Linked DNA regions of Homo sapiens: region 2 is linked to region 1. Evidence: fine-mapped expression QTL. A gene starts in region 1. The other region holds a variant in brackets. All regions are shown on one strand. Distances are from middle to middle. Region 1 holds the start of CSF3R (colony stimulating factor 3 receptor). Region 2 overlaps OSCP1 (organic solute carrier partner 1).

What was found. PIP is the estimated chance that this variant, and not a neighbour inherited with it, causes the effect.
Region 2: its variant is fine-mapped to the expression of CSF3R in whole blood (TOPMed, PIP 0.98).

Annotation. Positions count from the first base shown.
Region 1 is chr1:36,481,042-36,483,949 of GRCh38, forward strand. It overlaps CSF3R (colony stimulating factor 3 receptor), which reads right to left and starts at 1,872. Exons shown (of 17, transcript NM_000760.4): 1 at 1,770-1,872; 2 at 437-496. RefSeq lists an enhancer at 1-560.
Region 2 is chr1:36,422,890-36,425,797 of GRCh38, forward strand. It overlaps OSCP1 (organic solute carrier partner 1), which reads right to left. Exons shown (of 10, transcript NM_145047.5): 5 at 474-577; 6 at 1-7. Among named protein-coding and RNA genes, the nearest start is that of SNORA63C, 5.8 kb to the left of the region's middle. The variant C/T (reference allele first, on the strand shown) is at 1,216.

The DNA.
Region 1 (2,908 bases):
AGCATACCAGTTTGATTATCCCCCCGCAACACTGGTTGGGGAAGATTTAGCCTCCAAGGCCCAGATTTTGGGACACTGGTTTTCATCTCCATGTGCTTTTGATCCTATCCCAGCCCTGTTGCCCTAGCCAGGGTCAGCTTCAGGCCCAGCCTATGCCCCGTGCAGTACCACCCTATCCGCCTCCACTGGCTCCTGTCCAGAGTAGACAACCTAACCCCAAGAGGCCCCGGCATCCTTCCCCTGGGTGCTGGGTGTTGGCCTGCTTGGCCTCAGTCTCTGGTCCTCCACTGCAGCCCTGGACGTCCCCCAGCCTGGTTAAGTGGGCCTAGGACCTGTTGGAGCATGGTCTCACTCTCTGGGGGGCCGATATGCAGAGAGGTTTGGAGCCCAGCTCAGATTCAGGTCACCTGACTTGATCTCCAGCTCCGCCACTTACCAGCTTTGTGATCTTGGACAAGTTACTTCACCTTTCCGAGCCGAGCCTCAGTTTCCCCATCTGTGGGAAAGAAATAACATTAGCACTCACTCCTCAGCGTTGTTGTGAGGATGAAATGAGATTATTTTGGTAAAGGCATTTAGCCCTGTGCCTTGCATGGAGTTGGCACTCAGCAACCATAGGTTATTTTCACGAGCCATAAATAGCAGGTCAGCAGCTCACAGAATCCAGCACAGTTCAGTTTTCCCCTCACCCCTGCCTCCCTCACAGCCTGTGTGGTCACACCTCCCAGGACTGCCACCTTGCTTTTGTCTGTGCCACACTGCGCAGTTCCAAAGCCCCCTTTCTGGATCCTCTCCTCCTAACTCCTGGGCCCCCTGGCCCTCCTGTCACTGCGGCCATCTCTGCTGGGCTCTGCAGGTGCTCACTCCTGTGGCCCAGCACAGCTCGATGTCTCCTGGGCTGGCTGCCTTCACATTCCCTCTTTCTGTTTCTCCCTCATCACGCTCAGCCCTCTCCCCTCACACTCTCTTCCCCACTTCACACCCCTCGCTCCCTTGCTGTTTCTACTCTCACCTCGAGATTCTTTCTGTGGGAAGGGTGGGGAGGGAGGAGGGGGCTGGGAATAAACAGAGGGGAGAGGCATTTCCAGATATGCTGCAGATAAAGAAAAAGAGAGAGCAACAGGAAGAGTGACAGAGTGAGGCGGTGACTGAAATCCACACAGACTGAAACGACAGAGAGACTCGCCAAGAGGACGATTGAGGCCAGAGAGATATCGAGAGACAGAGAAAAAGGGCCCAATGTACGCCGACCCAGAGAGTGGGCGGGGGGGGGGCACTCGGAGGCCTGGAGCCCGGGAAGCGTCTGTTACCGAGAGTTTAAGATTCAAGAGATAGCAGGAAATATGCGAGACAGAGAAACTCAGAGAGATAGCAAGCCAGAGAGAAGCTGAGGAGGAAAGATGGAAACAGAGAGTGAAATAGAGACCCAGACGGGGAGGGGTTGCGCGGCTGGAACTCACAGACACACACGTCCTGAGAGACAGAGGCATGGGGAGGGGAGAATGATTATGCCTGTCCCCAGCCCAGCTCAGTGTCCCCAAGGAGATACTTGGCTGTGAGTGACTTCCCTGGTGCAATACCCCCAAAAGTAGGGGCATCCTGTGAAAAGAGACTCAGTGTCCAGGGCTGGGGTTCCAAAGGACGAATCCCGGGCCCCAGGCCTAGGACCCCGGACATGAACACTTGGCAGAGCTGTGGGGAGTGGCCCCAGGATTCCAGCTCTCCATCAAGCCCAAGGCTCAGCCCCTCTCTAGGGATCCCCTACTCACGTTGGCACCTCTGGCCCAGCCCCTGCTTGGCCTCCTTGGTCTCTCTTCTCGTCAAGAGAAGTTCCTGAAACCAGCTGCAGTCCAGCTTCTCTCCCCGAGCTCTGTCGTTAATGGCTCAGCCTCTGACAGGCCCGGGGGCTGGGGATTGCAACACCTTCCGAGCCTCCCTCCTGCCCTCCCTTGCGCCTTCGAGGGCACAGGCAGCCCCTTCCTCCCAGGAAGGAGCCTGTGAGGGAAGCTGGTGAGGCCCGGGCAGCCTTCCTGCCTTGGGGGTCTTAAAGGGCTGGGGAATGTGGCAACGATGTCCCCCTCCCCTGCCTCCGGATTTCCTGAGCTCAAAGCTTTGAGGCTGGGCAGGGCCCAGGCTCCCACCTGGCTGGGTGCCATCCTTATGCCCCCTGCCCTGGGGGAGCATCACTTGGAGGCAGGCCCTGGCTGGAAGGCTCACCCGGCCCTAAGCCTCTTTTCAGCTCTAGCCTTGGGGACCACATCTTCACAGTACTCAGAAGGGTGTGTTCCAGGTTCCAGGGAATTGTGTAACCCAATACTCACTGCTCCCCTCTTCATTACGTATTCTGTGCATTGCCCATAGACCAGGCAGATGGAGAAACAGGAATTCTGGGGGCAAGACAGGAGGACGTCTTGGTGAGGCACGGGGTCTTTATATGTTCACTAAAAATTAGGAATGTTTACCCACAATGGTTCTGCAACACTGAATATTTTGTAATTGAGTGAAATAGACTACATTTTATGTCTTTTATTGTCTGTATTCATGATTCTTCTAAAACTACAAATAATTTTCTTTGCATTTTCTGAGAAAGGTTCAAACTGCTCATAGTTTATTGGATTCATAACCCAAAAAAGGTTAGGTGCCAACAGACCAGCAGACTGTCCTTAACATATAATCCTTTTGAGGCATCTGGGTCTGGTGTGATGCTGCAGACCAGGGCTGTAGTTCTAGTTCCAAGTCAAATGACCTGACTGCCTGCTGCAACCCTCCCAAGATATCCCACAGGCTCTGCTCGCTCAGTGAGTCCCATGGACTCTCTTCTTTCCAAATATAACCAGAATCCTGGGTATTCACTGTAAAGTTCAACTTGGCTCTACGTTTGAATATTTTTATGATAATATTTGGAAAA
Region 2 (2,908 bases), 58 kb before region 1:
GAACATTCTACAATACAAAGTATGACATGATGGAATGTTCTCCAAGCTTAGGTAGTCCTGGAGGCTTCTTTATTCTTTGTACTACAGAACAAAAAAGGAATACATGCTCTCCTTCAAGATAAAGGTGCTGGTTGTAATAATAATAATAATAATACAATAATAATATTTATTGAGCATATGTATGTGCCAATTGCTTTGTAAGCACGTTAGAGCACTATTATCTTATTCATCCACACAGTAACCATTTAACAGATGAGGAAATTAGTCCTGGGGAACTGGGTAACTTGCCTCAAGTCCCTCTACTAAGTGACAAGGTGGGGATTAGAACCTGACTTTTTCAATAGCTGTTTTACTGAAGAAAGAGAAGGGCTGGGCAGACTGTGAGTGGCTTGGCAGTGCGGCATTCCGTGTGCGGCCCATGTGCTGATTTCCTAGCACCCCAAACATAGCTCTGATCATTGTTGGGAATTCACCTGATGAGTCCTGGAACTTCAGTTCCCCAAGGAACAGGCCCGGACACCGGCAACACAAAGCGACCGTTATTATTCTGAACTTTGTCCTTTAGAAACATGGATACCTGGAAAAAAATACATTTATTGTCATTTTTCTTGGTATATTTTCATAGACATCAATATTCTGAGGGTGGAAAGTGCGTAATGGTTTGGGAACATGACCTATGAGTTTATAACAATAAGAAGGGAGAGGCTGGGCGCAGTGGATCATGCCTGTAATCCCAGCACTTTGAGAGGCTGAGGCAGGCGGATCATGAGGTCAGGAGATAGAGACTATCCTGGCTAACACGGTGAAACCCTGTCTCTACTAAAAATACAAAAAATTAGCCGGGCGTGGTGGTGGGCACCTGCAGTCTCAGCTACTCAGGAGGCTGAGGCAGGAGAATTGCTTGAACCTGGAAGGCAGAGGTTGCAGTGAGCCAAGATCGTGCCATTGCACTCCAGCCTGGGCGACAGAGTAAGACTTCATCTCAAAAAAATAAAAAAATAAAAAAAAGAAGGGAGAAAAAATTACACTTGCAGAGTTAACTGTATTTTAACAAACAGAACTATTTTTTTTTTTGAGATAGGGACTCACTTTGTCACCCAGGCTGGAGTGCAGTGGCACGATCTTGCCTCACTGCCACCTCAGCCCCGCCAGCTCACGCGATTCTCCCGTCATAGCCCCCAAGTAGCTGGGACCACAGGTGTGAGCCACTGTGCC[C/T]AGCTAATTTTTATATTTTTTTGTAGAGATGGGTTTTCGCCATGTTGGCCAGGCTCAAAATCCTAAGCCCAAGTGATCTGCCTGCCTCGGCCTCCCAAAGTGCTGGGATTACAGGCGTGAGCCACCGTGCTCGGCTACAAACAGAACTACTTTTGAGCAGCGCAGCAAACCTTCCAGGTGAGTCCTATTACCCCCATTTTAAAGACGAGAAAGCTAAAGTAGAGAGTGAAGTGACTTGCCCAAAGAGAGCTAAGAGGCAGGGCCAGGATTCAAAACCAAAGGTGACTCCAAATTCCACCCGTATGCCTTGGTTCCCTGCCTACTTTCCATGCAGCTGCAGGCCTTGAGCTGTAAGAACCTCATATGGCCACTTTCTACATGAGGCAGCTCAGAGGTTAAGATGCCTCCTCAAGGTCAGCCAGCTGGTAAGGGGCAGAGCTGAGGATTCAAACTCCTGTGATTCTGACTTTGGAGCCCGAACCTTATCCACATGCTGGACTAGAAAGAAGGATGGGGCTGGGGCAGGGGGATCCAGCTGACATTTAAGTTTGAGGATCTTTTAGGTGACTGAAAACACATTACACTTATTCCTTCTCCTGGGTTCGTGTACTCTGTATAGAGGTTTCGGTCACTCACAGATTAAATCTCATAAAGATAGTAGCAGTTAATCAGTTTTACTGGGTCTTGGCTTCCTTATCTGTAAAATAAGAGATGAGCTTGAAGATCTTTTCAACTCTAATATTCTATAAGGTTATATTAGTAATATAATCAAGAATAAGTATCTTAGGCTGGGTGTGGTGGCTTACGCCTGTAATCCTAGCACTTTAGGAGGCTGAGGCGGGTGGATCACCTGAGGTCAGGAGTTCGAGACCAGCCTGGCCAACATGGTGAAACCCTGTGTTTAATAAAAATAAAAAAATTACCAGGGTGTGGTGGCTCATGCCTGTAATCCCAGCTACTCACAAGGACAAGGCACGAGAATCGCTTGAACCCCAGAGGTGGAGGTTGCAGTGAGCCGAGATCATGCCACTGCACTCCAGCCTGGGCAACAGAGCAAGACTCTGTCTCAAAAAAAAAAAAAAAAATGGAAAGAATAAGCATTTGTTGTGTGCAAGGCAGTGAAAATGCAAAGCGATAAGAATGTGTGAGCTGGCAGCTTGGCATACTGATGTTAGACTCTGAAGGCTTAAATACTGGACGGGCCACTTCTGGGTTTTTGGGAAATTACACAACCTTTCTGTGCATCAGTTTTCCCTTTGGTAACCTGGGGGTAATAATAGTAATAATAATAGATAACTCGGTGGGTTACTGTGACAACTAAATCAGACAGTGTATAAAAAGTAAAGCCGGCTGGGTACAGTGGCTCACGCCAGTAATCCCAGCACTTTGGGAGGCTGAGGCGGGAGGATCATGAGGTCAGGAGTTCAAGACCAGCCTGGCCAACATGGTGAAACCCTGTCTCTACTAAAAATACAAAAAATTAGCTGGGTGTGGTGGCATGTGCCTGTAATCTGGCTACTCGGGAGGCTGAGGCAGGAGAATCGCTTGAACCCAGGAGGTGGAGGTTGCATTGAGCTGAGACCTTGTCACTGTATTCCAGCCTGGGCAACAGAGCAAGACTCTATCTGGAAAAAAAAAAAAAAAAGCAAAGGCTGACACATAGACTATGTGCTCAATAAATGGTAGCCAATAC